2 separate regions of the Homo sapiens genome follow, and region 1 is linked to region 2. The links come from fine-mapping of genetic effects on gene expression. Tissue or cell type: fibroblasts. Region 2 holds a variant in brackets; the other region holds the start of a gene. All regions are shown on one strand. Distances are between the middles of the regions.

What was found. PIP is the estimated chance that this variant, and not a neighbour inherited with it, causes the effect.
Region 1: INTS4 starts here. The variant in region 2 is fine-mapped to the expression of INTS4 in fibroblasts (GTEx, PIP 0.92).

What each region holds. Positions count from the first base shown.
Region 1 is chr11:77,991,092-77,999,199 of GRCh38, forward strand. It overlaps INTS4 (integrator complex subunit 4), which reads right to left and starts at 3,577. Exons shown (of 23, transcript NM_033547.4): 1 at 3,499-3,577; 2 at 17-208. The coding sequence starts at 3,552. RefSeq lists an enhancer at 3,492-3,691 and silencers at 3,892-3,961, 6,719-6,919.
Region 2 is chr11:77,903,937-77,912,044 of GRCh38, forward strand. It overlaps INTS4 (integrator complex subunit 4), which reads right to left. Exons shown (of 23, transcript NM_033547.4): 16 at 3,781-3,874. It also overlaps a transcript of AAMDC not described here. Among named protein-coding and RNA genes, the nearest start is that of INTS4, 87 kb to the right of the region's middle. The variant G/A (reference allele first, on the strand shown) is at 3,459.

The DNA of each region.
Region 1 (8,108 bases), 87 kb after region 2:
CTCAAGATTTTCTTACCTTGTAATAATGTTCCAAGAGAATCCTGACTACTCCCTCTACGCTTTCCGCCTCGACAGGCTTCCTGGCAAACTGGAGCAAGTATTGCAAAGCATCTGCTGGGGAGGTAGCTTTACACAGATCTATGTGGAGTGCTGCAGATTTACTTGGTTTTGTTAGTCGGAGTTTCTTAGTAGCAATTTCCTCCTGTGGCTGCAAGGGGTAGAGAAAATCGAAAACACAGAATCTGCAAATTTAACTTTGCCTCATTTGGTGGAAATGATTTTCCATTATACCAAATAATATATTTAGCTGATGGACTTAGGAAAATACAGTATTATAAACCAGAAAGAGTACCGGGTTGGTGACAAGGCCATGAGTCTCAATTTTGCCTTTACCAGTTCCTATGACTTTAGGCAAGTCATTTAATTTCTCCGAGTCTCAGTTTATGTCTCTGTAAAATAGGTATACTTTTTTTTTTTCTTAGAGATGGAGTCTCTCTATGTTGCCCAGGCTGGTCTTAACTCCTGGGCTCAAGCAATCCTGGCACCTCAGCCTCCCAAAGTGCTGGGATTACAAGCATGAGCCACGGTGCCCAGCCTTACACTAACATTTTGCTCTACCTATCTCTGAGGATTGTGGTAGCCTTTGGGTTTAGAGGTCACACAAAGGATCTACTCCATTTTTTTGAGACAGAGCAAGACACTGTCGCCCAGGCAGGAGTGCAATGGTGCAATCTTGGCTTGCTGCAATCTCCACCTCCTAGGTTCAAATGATTCTCTGACTGACACCCAACATGCTGGGATTATAGGTGTGTGCCACCTCCACCTACTACGTTCAAGCGATTCACCTCCCTGACTCCCAACTAGCTGGAATTACAGGTGTGTGCCACCACACATGGCTAATTTTTGTATTTCTAGTAGAGACAGGTTTTGCCATGTTACCCAGGCTGGTTTCGAACTTCTGGCCTCAAGTGATCCCTCTGCTTCAGTCTCCCAAAGTCCATTCTTTATTAGAAAACAAATATCAGACATGGCATGGTGGCTCATGCCTGTAATCCCAGCACTTTGAGAGGCTTAGGCAGGCGGATCACTTGAGGCCAGGAGTTCAAGACCAGCCTGGCCAACATGGCAAAACCCCATCTCTACTAAAAACACAAAAATTAGCTGGGGGTGGTGGTGTATGCCTGCAGTCCCAGCTATGCAGGAGGCTGAGGATTGCGTGAACCCAGGAGGCAGAAGTTGCAGTGAGCTAGGATTGCGCAACTGCACACCAGTTTGGGCGAAAAGAGCGAAACTCCATCTCAAAACAGAAGAAAAGGAAACAAATATCCGATGGGCGTAGTGGCTTACACCTGAAATCCTAGCACTTTGGGAGGCTGAGGCAGGAGGATCCCTTGAGCCCAGGAGTTCGAGACCAGCCTGGGCAACATGGTGAAATCCTGTCTCTGTTAAAAAATAATAATAAAATAAAATAAATTTCCTTACCACCTAATGGTGCGTTTTTATGTACTGAGCAATCACCTCCTTACAAATTCACATTTCTATAGAAAAGAGAGTAGAATTATTCTAGACAAGAACACAGTATGACATGATAAAAAGAATAAGGACTTTGGAGTCAGAGGAATTTGTATTCAATTACAACTTACTAGCTGGGGAAGGCCTTCTTCTATAGGAGGGCATACCAATACTTTATTATCACAGAGCTAGTCGATAAATCTGTTATTAAACATAACTTTATTATACGTATATGTAAGTGCTAGGCACATATCAGTTCTCCCTCCTCATCTTTTCAGCGGAGAAAAAAGAACAGAAGCACTAAGATCTCATTTAATCACTTTATGTTAACAACTGATGAAAAATTAAGTGAAGAAATTAGCTCTTCCCTTAAAATTCTTAGCCATTTCTATCCTAGTCCTCTCAAACTCAGTTTTCAGTCTTATCGAAGCTGTAGTTAGGTCAAAAGCTAGGAATTTTTTCCCTAAGTATTATATAAGGGAGAGGACAAGCAATATCAACTGTCATTCAACCACCAATAACACTTTAGTGAGCCAGGCCCTATTGTCCATCTCCAGGACACGGAGATGAGCCAGGCATTAGCTCTGCCATCAAGGACCTCCGACTGGTGGGAAGATAGGTACACCGGTAATGACAGCAGCACTGAACAAAAAGTACAAATAGATTAGTACCACAGAATGCTACAGAAACAGGTGAAGAAGAGACTAAGCTCTCGCTGAGGTTTCATTTGGGTCTTGAAGCACAAATGTTAAGTCCACTGGGTGGAGAACAAAAAGAAAGGGAAGAATGGCATGTATTCTGTGAGAAGAGACAACCAGTGCAAGAGTTTTGAGATATGCAAACACAAGAACACATGGCATATCTGGTCATGTGAGGATGGGTGGAAGAGGGCTGAGCAGTCTTGGGAAATGGGAACAACAGAATGTTGGGAAGAGAGGAAATCACATTGTGCAACAGTGCTAATGTTCTTAATGCCACTGAACTTTATACTTAAAATTGTTAAAATTGTAAATTTTATATTATGTATTGACATATTTTGTATTTGTATTAACATATTTTAATGCTGGATGAATGAATCCATGTAATGTTTAAGGATCAGTATCCTGCTGGATGCTCTAAGCCTTGCCACTCTACAAGTCTAAGGATCTAAGAATGCAACCAATGCACTGGTGTAAATTTGGGGGCATGTCAGGAATGCAGAATCTTGCCTCACCTCCTCTGCTTGACTTATCAAATAGAATCGACATTTGAACAACGTCCCCAGGTAATTTGTATACACATTAATATCTGAGAAATAGGACATCAGGATGATTTAGGATCAACCCTAGCAACATCTACGTGGAGACACATGGAGCATCACTGACTCCCGACAGGGACTCTGCCCACCTGTCACAACTTCATGGTGAGGAAGGTACTGCCCTCCTTCCTAGGTGAGCTGTTCTACCAATAGAGAGCTCTTCCCCTATGAAGTCTGTGACCCCCGCCTGCTTAGACTGCGCCTGAAGGAATTCTATAGACCCTTCTTTCAGCCCCTTAGAACCTTGTGTATATTCCAACTGGTCCCTGGGAGGTTTTTTTTTGGAACGGGGGTGCGGGGAGGCTAGAAGGGGCTCTGCTGCTAACTGGCTGTATCCTCGTACCCCTCCGGAAGGCTCAATGTCCACATCTGGAAAACGAGGATGCTAATGTAACGCGATGGAGCAAAGTTGTGTGAGAGAATAAAATGAAATAACGGATAAGACAGTTTCGTAAATTAAAAAACACTGTTTCTCCTAATAATTTTTTTAAAATCCTGTCAGACTTCACATATTAATGACAACAGCGGCTGCAAACTAACACGCCCACTAACTTGCAATATCAGAGATTATCAACAAGTCAGCACTTAACACGGGCGTATGGAGCCTCTTCTGTTCCGGCAAAGTGCCTGGGATTTGGATAATCTACCCTGGTCCGGATCGGTTCTGGATCTTTCCCGCCAGAGCTTACCTGAACCACTTTCGTGAATTCCTCATAAACCCGCTTCTTAAGGTGCGCCGCCATGCCTACCCGCGGGCCCTCTCAGCTTCCGTACACTAGGAGGGAGGCGGGGGTGGACGGATCCGGAAAACTTGCGTAGGCGCGGGGGGTGGGTGGATGACTTGCCGAGATCCCACAAGGCAGTGGGATTTGGGGAAAGAGCGACCGCTTCCTGTTGCTCGACTGCCTCGCCACTGTACGGACTGATTTGGCGGCCTACGCCGGAAGAACGGAAATAAGAGCTTCGCTTGTGGGAGGCGGGGCCTCTGGCGGGAGGAGCTGAGACTGAAAGGGTGGGCAACCCAATGGGAGCTTTGGGAGGCTGGTTGGTGGCCTCGGAGTGGCTAAGAGACTAGCGCGGCGCGGCGCGAAGGGAGGGAGGGAGGAAGTACAGGTTAAAGGGCAGAGGCGGGGTGCTCCAGAGCTAGAGGCAAAACCCGGAGCTCTGTAAGGGGTTTACGACTCGTGAAAAAACTCAGAGGCTCGGCTGACTTTCCCATCATCCTTTGCTGTACACGATGCTGTTTGTAGGTTTCCTGAGCACTGCCTTTGTTCAAGCTGTGCGCCACCTCTCTTGTTTTGGGGTGCCTTTCCATACTTCCTTATTCCAGTTTTGCAAAAGCTGCCATCCTTTAAGGCATCAATCCCTGCTCTGATAGCTATAGTACAGTAGAAGACTTCTGAGACCAAGGATAAAGCAACAAAGCTACAGACTACAGCTCTGGTTCTTGAGCAAATGGCTCAACTACAAATGCATTTATAATAACTAACCTGACAAAGATGTGACAATGGAGTGAAATAATGCAGGAACATTTTACGGACTGTAAGGTGTAGTGCACATGTTAGTGTCAGTAAATCCAAGGTCAAGTTTTACAACCTACATGAAACTAGCTGTTCATTATTTTGGTCTTTCAAAAGAATGTGGGCCAGGCGCGGTGGCTCATGCCTGTAATCCCAATACTTTGGCAGGCCGAGGCGGATGGATCACTTGAGGTCAGGAGTTCGAGACCAGCCTGGCCAACATGGGGAAACCCCGTCTCTACTAAAAATACAAAAATTAGTCGGGGCATGGTGGCACACGCCTGTAATCCCAGTTTCTTGGGAGGTTGAGGCAGAAGAATCACTTGAACATGGGAAGCGGAGGTTGCAGTGAGCCGAGATCGCGCCACTGCACTCCAGCCTGGGCGACTGAGCGAGACTCCGTTATCAAAAAAAAAAAAAAAGAATTAATGTGGGATAGTTTAAAAAAAAAAAAGCAGGAGGCTGAGGTGGATACAGAGGACCCAAAAATAAACAAAAGATAGTATTTATCCTCAAGGTCCTACAATCTGAGAAGACAGACACCCAAACTGATGGTGACAGTGCAACTGAAATGTGCTGGGTAACGGGAATGAATGTGGTTCAAACAGACCTAATTTCTTCAGAGTGCCTCAGGGAAGGCTTTCCTAAAATTAGAGGAAACTGGGAGTGGTGGCTCACGCCTATAATCCCAGCACTTTGAGAGGCCGAGGCGGGCAGATCACCTAGTTCAGAAGTTTTGAGACCAGCCTGGGCAACATGGCGAAATCTACTTTAAAAATACAAAATTTAGCTGGGCATGATGGTGGCCCACGCCTGAAGTCCCAGCTACTCTGGAGGCTGAGGCGGGAAAATCGCTTGGGCCTGGGATGTGGAGGTTGCAGTGAGCCGAGATCCAGCCACTGCACTCCAGCCTGGGCAACGGAGTGAGACCCTGTCTCCAAAAAAAAAAAAAAAAAAAAAAAAGGCTGGGCGCGGTGGCTCACCCCTATAATCCCAACACTTTGGGAGGCCGAGGCAGGCGGATCACCTGAGGTCGGGAGTTCGAGACCAGCCTGGCCAACATGGTGAAACCCCGTCTCTCCTAAAAATACAAAAACTAGCCGGGCGTCGGGGTGGGTGACTGTAATCCTAGCTACACGGGAGGCTGAAGCAGGAGAATCGTTTGAACCCAGGTGGCAGCGGCTGCAGTGCGCCGAGATCGGGCCTCTGTACTCCAGCCTGAGCAACAGAGCGAGACTCTGTCTCAAGAAAAAAAAAAGAAAAAAAAAGGAAACTATTTCTAATGCAGCTTTAAAAGAATGAGTTTTTCCAGAAACAAAGGCATCCCAGACCGCCGAGATAAGATATACAAATATGTCAAGGGAAATGAAAAACATTTAGCAAACAGTACCTTTAATAAAGCTTAGCTGCTATTATTACCATTATCATATTCTATCAAATCTAAGCTGCCAGCAATTGTAAAATCAATATTTTATTTATTATGTTAAGAAAAGAAATGCTGAAATTAAATACAATGGTTTCTAATTGCTTAGATTTGTTATGTATACTTACAGAAACAGCTCTTTTTAACTTATTTAGACATAGATTTGTATCTTACCTCGCACTGCTGTTTCCATGTCTTCCTGTGCACATAAGAACTTTTTAATGCCAAATTATAGGGTAATCTATTTGGAGATATATTTAATAGTAATTTAAAATAACACATGTAATTCCAAAATTGCACAGAGCTCAGTCGAAGCGATGACACCATGAACTGCTACGACTCAGTATACATATGAGCGATTGGCCAACATCTCCTGATTTCGGAGACATTAAATGTGCATCATAGCATCAATGATACAGAGTATTATCATCGTTATTAAATACATGGCGGCCAGGTGCGGTGGCTCACACCTGTAATCCCAGCACTTTGGAAGACCAAGGTGAGAGGATAGCTTGAGCTCAGGAGTTGGAGACCAGCCTGGGCAACATGGTGAAAACCTATCTCTACCAAAAATACAAAAAATTAGCTGGGCGTGGTGGCATATGCCTGTAGTGCCAGCTACTCGGGAGGCTGAGGTAGGAAGATTGCTTGAGCCCGCTTGGCAGAGATTGCAGTAGCTGAGATCGCACCACTGCACTCCAGCCTGGGTGACAGAATGAGACCCTGTCTCAAAATAATAAATAAATAAATAAATAAATAAATAAATGGCTTTAGGAAGGAGTTTGGTGCATTCCGAAAACCAAAGGAACTTCAGTTCATGTTGAAAGTTAAGTGCATGCAGGGAACAGAAGAAGCAATAAAAATAAAGTTGAGGCCAGGCATGGTGCCTCATGCCTGTAATCCCAGTACTTTGGGAGGTGGTAGGTGGGAGGATCCCTTGAGCTCAGGAGTTCCAGACCAGTCAGTGCAACAGAAAGAGACCCTGTCTCTATATTTTAAAAAAAAAAAATTTATATGGAGTTTATCTCTGTCACCCAGGCTGCAGTGCAGTGGCACAATCGTGGCTCCCTGTAGCCTCGATCTCTGAGGTTCAAGCGATTCTCCTGCCTCAGCCTCATGAGTAGCTGAGATTACAGGCATGCGCCACCACACCCAGCTAATCTTTTTGCATTTTTAGTAGAGACAGGGTCTCACCATGTTGCCGAGGCTGGTCTCAAACTCCTGACCTCAAGTGATCTGCCCACCTCGGCCTCCCAAAGTGCTGGGATTACAGGCATGAGCCACCACGCCTGGCTATATAAATTTTTTTTAAATTATAAATAAATAAATTTGAGAAGTTGGTATAGCCAACTTCTCAATGAGCCAGATTGGTATAGAAACAAGAACACACATTCTTTAATGTTGAATTGAAAAACCGTCTTTATTGTATTGATGCCATTTTCCTTTGACTTTTATTATTACTTATGAAAATACATTAAGGTTCACCTGTGAATGAATCCGTGAGGCTTCAGTCTTCTCTCTCTCTTGCATAACAGCAGCCCAACTTAGTAACTTCTTCTCTACCTGCTGGTTCAGAACAAGAGCCCCAGTGGTCTGGGGACAGTCTCATTACATGTCCAATGTAATGAACAATGACTATGTTCTCTAGGGCAACTGTTCCTCCCTTGGGGAGTAAGTCTTCCAAACCTACTGAGCCCAAGAATTCATAAATGAATTATTAGGTGTAAAAGAGAGAGGAACTGCTCCTATCTCCACCCTTTGATAACCAGACCCATGTTCTAACTGTGGGAGAAGCAGTACTATATTTTAGCTGTTGGTATAAGGCATATGCCACAAACAGCGGCCCAAACTCACAATGTGTTGGCTCTTGACTAGCGCTATAACTGAATCTCCAAAAGGTTATTATTCTGCTTTATTATAGCACCTACATCTGAATGATGGGGTTCCTGGCAAGACCAAGAAGTTTCTTCACTACAATTTTCTCAGCATAAAATAAGCTCCTTAATCAGAAGCAATGTGTGGAGTACTATGATAATGAATGAGGCATCCATAGATGATGGAGCTGGCAGAAATATTGCAGGCAGGGAAGTCAAATCTGAATTTGGAATATGAATCTATTCCTGTGAGGACAAATCACTGCTCCTTCCATGATGGAAAGGATCCAGTGTGTAGTTGAATGATTGCAAAAAAAGCCCCAAATCTCCCCCTCTCGGTATGTATACCCCTTGAAGTGTGACTTTGAAGGTGCTTTTATTAAGAGATGAAATCTATATTATCACCCTTTGAATTTGTGCTGGCCTTGTGACAGGCCAATACAATGTGGTAGAAGTGACAGCGTGCTAATTTTGAGTCTAAG
Region 2 (8,108 bases):
AGGCACTCCTTGTTCCCAGAGCTACTGGACTAACCCAAGCCACCTAGATACTTCTTCCTTAACTGTGGTTCTTTTTTCTTTTCCCCTATGCTCATTATGTTGTAAGCCCCAACCACTTTATCAACATATTCAACTAGAAATCAAGCAGCTTTCCTAGATTTCTCCCTCTTTCAATCTTTCTACATTCAAAACCACCACTAAGAGCCATGATTTTACCTTCCATCTCTCTCCTCACCTATCCATCCACATGACCTCATCCCTTGCACAAACTTCTGTGACAGCCTCTTATTTTCTCAGTCCTTCTGAATTACAGATGTAATCAAATGACATTACAGAAAACCTAGACTAACACTGTCCAATAGAAATATAACATGAGCTATATATAATTTTAAATATTCTCGTAGCCACGGTTTTTAAATTACAAAGATGTAAGTTAATTTTAAGATACAAAGACTAAGTTAATTTTTTAAAAAAGTTTATTTAACCCAGTATATCCAAGATATTAACATTTCACCATGCAGTATTTTTTAAATTATTAATTAGTTTACATTTTCTCTTCATACTAAGTCTGAGAAATCCAGTGTGTATTTTGCACTTAATAACACATCTCAGTTTGGACTAACAACTTTTTGAGTGCTCAAGAGTCCCATGTATCTGGTGGCTATCAAATTAAACAGTGGTAGGTCTAAACTGTAGATAAAAACTATAGGAATTTCTGGAATATTTACTTCTAATCATTTCTTGTATGCATGTTTTTTGACAGTTGTAGTCAGAAAGCAGAATTAAGTTTGGGGATTAGATCATAATCCCAAAACATACAATCCCAAATGTTGAAATCCTCACATCCAAATTCTGGGGAAGTGATTAGCGTGTTTTGGGTTGTATGCAGGATAGTTGCATCATGTTAGTTGTATCATGTTAGGCACAACTATTACCATGTTATTGTCTTTATTTGGAAATTAAATATGGCTTAAGGAGATGCGTATGAGTGCCAAGCTGACAAGGGGTGGACTTGTGGACCTAATTTTAGATATCAGCTTGACTAGATTAAGGAATATCAGAAACCTGGTAAAAGATTATTTTGTTTTACACATTGAGGGTGTGTCTATGAGAGTGTTTCCAGAAGAGATTAGTGTATAAATCTGAGTGTACTAAGTGGAGACTATCTGCCCTCAATGTTGGCGGGCACCATCCAATCAGCCAGTGGCCAGGAGAGAACAAATACTTAAGACGAAATGGGCTGGGAGTGGTGGCTCATGCCTGTAATCCTAGCACTTTGGAAGGCCGAGGTGGGTGGATGACCTGAGGTCAGGAGATGGAGACCAGCCTGACCAACATGGCAAAACCCTGTCTCTACTAAAAATACAAAAATTAGCCAGGCGTGGTGGTGCACACCTGTAATCCCAGCTACTTGGGAGACTGAGACAGGAGAATTGCTTGAACCCAAGAGGCAGAGGTTGCAGCAGTGAGCCGAGATCACGCCACTGTATTCAGCCTGGATGATAAGCTGAGACTCTGTCTCAAAAAAAAAAAAAAGGCAATATAGCAAAACGGACTCTCTGGGTTCTGCTGCTTGGATATCAGAAATCTGACTCCATGAAAGTGCATCATCACAATACTGACTTTGTGTATAAGCATTGAGTGTGTACACAAAATGTTGAAACTTCCTCGATAAATGAGATATCCTTTTCGTACATCTGCATTTGTGAAAGATAAAATTTCTTGAGATCTCAGCTCTTTGGGTGACTGCATATGCAGTGGTGACCCAGCACAGTTTCCATCAATCTCGTCAAAAGACTTGAGGTTGTTGGGCACAGTATTTCAGATGACCACAGTTAAAAAGCTGGGTATACACAATTAACAACCAAAGTGATATGCATTTATACCTTTCCCTTTATGACCAATTTCTTTATAAATATGGCTCATCTGCTCATAACTGTTAGACCCACCCAACTGTCATTAGTAACCTGAGTGTTTATGCTTGCAAAAATGTATGTTGTTATTGTCTGTTTTATTATATTAAGTGATGTATAAAGTATTCTGTTGTGTTTTTATGTTTCTCAAATAAATTCCCCTTTAAAAAATAAATATCTTTAAATTTTTTAAATTATTTCTTCCATAATTATATTTTGGGGATTTTGATATTTTCTGGGCTGTGGTTTTTGGGATTTTAGACCTTAGGGATTTTAGTCTTTTGGAATTTAAACAGTTTAGGACTATGATGTTCTGGACTATCTTTTGGGATTATGATTGGCTCCCCTTCTTTTGGGTACATAACATTACACCCTAAATATTTTGTCATGTTGTTGTATAATTCTTCATAAAGAATTACTGACTACAGAATATACTGCTAGGTAGCTGTACCAAAATTTATTTAGCTTTTTTCCTGTTATTAAACACACTTGCCTTGGGTTCTGGCTCTGGGCCCCTCACCTACACTGTCACCCCTTGTCATTGAATAACCAACAATTATGTGTTCTTTTTAGGAGTAATCACTTCTCTTTCCTCACCCATATTTTGCTACTATAGAAAAGTGGATTCTTCTCCATGGCCTCCTTGAATTCCTGGGGTTTCACAGAGGCTTGGAAAAGCCAAACAACCTTGCAAAGGGGCAGGAAGGAACTTCTTGGAGTGATGAAAATGTTCTACGACTTGCCTATGGTGGTGATTACACAGATATATACATTAGAAAGAACATATCTAGCCTAACAAGGACCATTTAAGTGCCAAGTATACATACGCACCTTTACATGTATAGGCACACCTGCACAACTGTAAATATAACATTTAGCACAAGTTCACACAGTAGAAAATAACTTTTGACTCCCTGATTTACTCTGACTTTAGCCAAACATCATTAATCACTTTGAAAACAAAGAACACTTTGAACTAGGGCCAAGATAAAAGTTCGTCAAGTGAGAAGGGCTCTCCTAAATTCTGTGCCAAAATTTATAGTAAAATTCTGCTACAGAAGCTGAAAGATACTGAACTCATTTAATTGTTTTTTAACTCAGCAAAACTAAATAGATTCTTGGGTACCAATTCTGTGTATAGCTGACTACTGAGTAAGAAACGCCAGCAAGCTGGTCTTTTTAAAAGCAATGAAATCAACCTTTTAACTTTGATGAAGTGCAGTGAGTTTTTTTGTTTGTTTGTTTGTTTGTTTTCTTTAAAGACAGGATCTTGGTCTGTCATCCAGGCTGGAGTGCAATCTCACTGCAGCCTTGACCTCCTAGGCTCAAGCAGTCCTCCCAACTCCAGCCGAGTAGCTGGATATACAGGAATGCACCACCACACCTGCCTACTTTAAATTTTCTTGTAGAGATGAGGTGTCGCTATGTTGCCCAGGCTGGTCTCAAACTCTTGAGCTCAAGCGATCCTCCTGCCTTGGCCTGCCAAAGTGCTAAGATTACAGGTGTGAGCCACCGCACCTGGCCTTCAAATGAGCATTTTAAGAA[G/A]ATAGTCTAAAACTTCATACAATTCCTTTGCTAATCAAATTATACAAAACATTTACAACCTTGGGATTCTAACTAAAATGATTATCCAATCTGCTCTAATTATATTATGATAAAAGAATTCTCCCCAAATTTACAAATTCCTATGAGTTAATATTTCGTTAATTAGAGACAAATGTAATCACACTGCAGAGTACATATTTCTCCATTGTCAAGTGGTTGCATTAAGACCATAAGTTTTATAACTTATGGCCTCACACACTGCTGGATCCACAAAGATGCATTTTTAGCAACACAATCATAAATGGAATGGATGCAAACCAACCTTGATGAGAAGTAGTTGACAGCGAAGATAGGTGGCAGAGAAATCAGCTACTCCTGCCAATTCAGATTGAAGTTCTCCAAGTCTTTGCAGATCCCTATAGTAAATAAAACCCCCAAGGCAAACACAGGATAAGGATAATGCCACCAACATAAAGATCATGTCAAAAGCATTTTATCATTTTATACCTAGTAAACAGTCATACATTTTTAAATGACGACACTGAATGCTGGAGTGGTTATAATAAAATTGGTTCACTCACACTGTGATAGTAGTTTAAGCTGATGTAACCCTTTTGGAAAGCAAAACCGTACTGTTATAAAGGCACATATATGGTAAAATGTTTGATTCATAGCTTTACACTGAAAAGTATACTAAGAGAAATATTCAACAGAAATGAAATGCTTTATGGGTCATAATATTCATTGTTATGTGGACTATTATAGTAAAAACTCAGTAGCTACTTATTCAATGGTGAAAAAAATATTGAGTAAATTATGATGCATCCAATCAAGTAAATTTTTTTTTATTATACTTTAAGTTCTGGGGTACATGTGCAGAACGTGCAGGTTTGTTACATAGGTATACACGCGTCATGATGGTTTGCTGCATCCATCTTTTTTTTTTTTTTTTGAGGTGGAGTCTCGCTCTGTTGCCCAGACTGGAGTACAGTGGCGTGATCTCGACTCACTGCAACCTCTGTCTCCTGGGTTCAAGCGATTCTCCTGCCTTAGCCTCCTGACTAGCTGGGATTGCAGACGCACACCAGCACACCCAGCTAATTTTTGTATTTTTAGTAGAGACAGGGTTTCACCATGTTGGCCAGGCTGGTCTCAAGCTCCTGACCTCGTGATCTGCCTGCCTCGGCCTCTCATAGTGCTGGGATTACAGGCGTGAGCCACCGCCCCCGGCCCAAGTAAATATTTTGTAGCCATTAAAATATGGAATGGTTAATAAGGTGTATGATCTCAACTATGTAAAAACTATATAGAGGAGAAAAATACATTGAGGTGGTTTTCTGGATAATGGTAATAGGGTGCTCTTTAGTACCTTCTCCCAACTATGCTTTATTTTCCGAGTTTTTAAGACAATGAACAAGTATTTTTTTGTATCAGAAAAAAACATTATTTTTTAAAAGGTATTATGGTAGACACTGTTGGTTGCCTGTCCAGTTAGCCATTCTCCACTTCTTTATTACTAATTGAACTCTGATTTTGTTCAAGGGAACATGTCCCCAAGCCCAATTCCAAGTAGTATCTGATTGAACTAAGCCAATTAGTGCACATTGTCTGTCTGGATATGTGACCTGAGTTGACCTTATCAGTTCAGTTGAAAGTACTTTATTCCATGCTTACAACAAATTGGTGTGTCTGTCTGTCTCTCGCCGGACTGGGCAAGGATGTTTATAGCCCTGATTGCCATTAGCAGCATACTGTAACTCTAAGGGAAAAACCCTTAAGATAAAGCCAATGCTGAAGACAAGAAAAGTCCAAAGAGAAATAGAGAAACTAGGTCCTCAATGATATAAATAAGCCACTTAATCATACCATATCTCCAATTTCTGGACATCTGGAAAAATATCTTAGTCATGCAACTGCTATAACAAAATATCATAGACTGGGTGGGTTATAAACAACCGAAATTTATTTCTCACAGTTGTATAGGCTGGGAAGTCCAAAATCAAGACACCTACAGATTTGGTTTCTAGTGAGGGCTCATTTCCTCATAGGTTGCACCTTCTACATGTATCTTCATATGGTGGAAGTCACAAACGAGCTCCCTTAGGCCTCTTTTAAAGGTTATTAATCTCATTCATGACCTAATCACCTCCCAAAGACCTCACTTCCTCATAACATCACCTTGGGGTTAGGATTGCAGTATATGAATTTGGGGGAGACATAAACTTTCAGATCATAGCAGGAAATAAATAGCCATTATAAGCTAGCTTGTGAAAAGCATCCTAACTGGATATAAGTATAGACACAATGACTGTAACCATATGAAAACATATCTGCCTATAGTAAGAAATTAGAAAGTGTCATACACAAATAAAATAGTTGTGCTAGAATTATTGGTGATTTAAAACATTTAGTTTTCATATTTATGCAGCCAAAAGACACATGAAAAAATGCTCATCATCACTGGCCATCAGAGAAATGCAAATCAAAACCACAGTGAGATACCATCTCACACCAGTTAGAATGGCTATCATTAAAAAGTCAGGAATCAACACGTGCTGGAGAGGATGTGGAGAAATAGGAACACTTTTACACTGTTGGTGGGACTGTAAACTAGTTCAACCATTGTGGAAGTCAGTGTGGCAATTCCTCAGGGATCTAGAACTAGAAATATCATTTGACCCAGCCATCCCATTACTGGGTATATACCCAAAGGATTATAAATCATGCTGCTATAAAGACACATGCACGCATATGTTTATTGTGGCACTATTCACAATAGCAAAGACTTGGAACCAAGCCAAATGTCCAACAATGATAGACTGGATTAAGAAAATGTGGCATATATACACCATGGAATACTATGCAGCCATAAAAAATGATGAGTTCATGTCCTTTGTAGGGACATGGATGAAGCTGGAAACCATCGTTCTCAGCAAACTATCACAAGGACAAAAAACCAAACACTGCCTGTTCTCACTCATAGGTGGGAATTGAACAATGAGAACACATGGACACAGGAAGGGGAACATCACACCCCGGGGCCTGTTGTGGGGTGGGGGAGGGGGGAGGGATAGCATTAGGAGATATACCTAATGCTAAATGGTGAGTTAATGGGTGCAGCACACCAACATGGCACATGTATACATATGTAACTAACCTGCACATTGTGCACATGTACCCTAAAACTTAAAGTATAATAAAAAGAGAAAATGTTTCTTTAAAAAAAAAATTTAGTTTTTTTGAATAGTTAATACATACTTAAGGTATAGCTTTCAAAGGATATACAATTAAATTAAATTAAATTAGTCCCCCTTCCTACGCCTGTGCCCTGTAGCCCTGCCACCCTGTATACCTTCCCAGAGGCAACTACTATTACCAGTTTCTTTTGAATTTTGAGATATGCCATGCATTTACAAAAAGTACTGGTTTTCTTTGCTTTCTTCTTTTTTAGGGGAGGAATGTGAGTGTGTGTGTGTTTGTGTATTACCTAACCATCTCAGCATTCATAGAAAGCTGCCTCATTACTTTTTAATAGCAACATTAAATTCTGAATAGAAATGGAAACTGTGGGAAACCTTAAGGTCTGAGTCACTTGGGAAGCTGTCTGTTTCAGGGCCGGCATAACACATCAGGTTTCACAGTAGCCTGGAAAAAACCGTCCACTGGACTATGACACTTCCTCCCATCTCATGCTCGGCAGGTAACGTTACGATAGTTAACGATGCCTCCTGGGGACTTTGACATCAAGAAGGAGATGCCTACAAAGGGGCAAAGAGTAAATTACTCTCAAAGTGATTGAAGAATTAATGTATGATATATATCACTTCTTATTCGTTTGGGTTGCTTGAACTGGTCCTGGAGGGCCTACCCAAAGTGTGGGAACCCAGCACAATGAAAGCCAAGACCATAGACTAGCTAAGCCCAACTGTGAAGTGTGAGTTTGGTGGCCAGATGGTCTCTTCCTTTCGCTTCTCTGATTTTTCTCTTGCAAGAGACAGCCCTGAAGTATTCTACTTCAGAAGCATTTGTGTTTCCTCTCCAGGAAGATTCTGCCTTCTATGACAATTATACAGAATACAGACCAACTGACTGTACATTAACTAACTGATTCCAAATGTTACTTTATTCCCCTGCCCCGGAATTGTAGCAGTTGTTCTGAAGTGCACAAAACAAGATGTAACCCAATCCAACACAATTAGCCATAAGAAATCTGAACTTCTGTACAAACAAAAATGGAAACTTGTTAGCTCTGGGAAAAATCCTGTGTCCCAGTGTTACCTCTCTTTATCTCTTTATGCTCACAATTCTCAGGAAGCCTCAGTCTAGACATCCATCAGGAGACTATGGGCTCTAATGAGAAAGGTAAACTGAGCACATTCTATGTGCACTGTACTGTGCTGGCTGTTTCCTTACTTGAGCTCACTTAATCCTCACAATATGAATTGCAATTAATCCTATTTCACTGAACAGGAAACTAAAGATCAAAATTTAAGTGGCTTGCCTAAGGTCACAGAATAAACAACAAAACAGGACATGAACTAGACAGAGTCAGCTCTGACTCCAAAAGTATTTTTTTAACCATATCATATTGCATCTCATTTATTTATTTGCTATTAAACTCTTTTCATTTATTTATTAATTACATCAAAC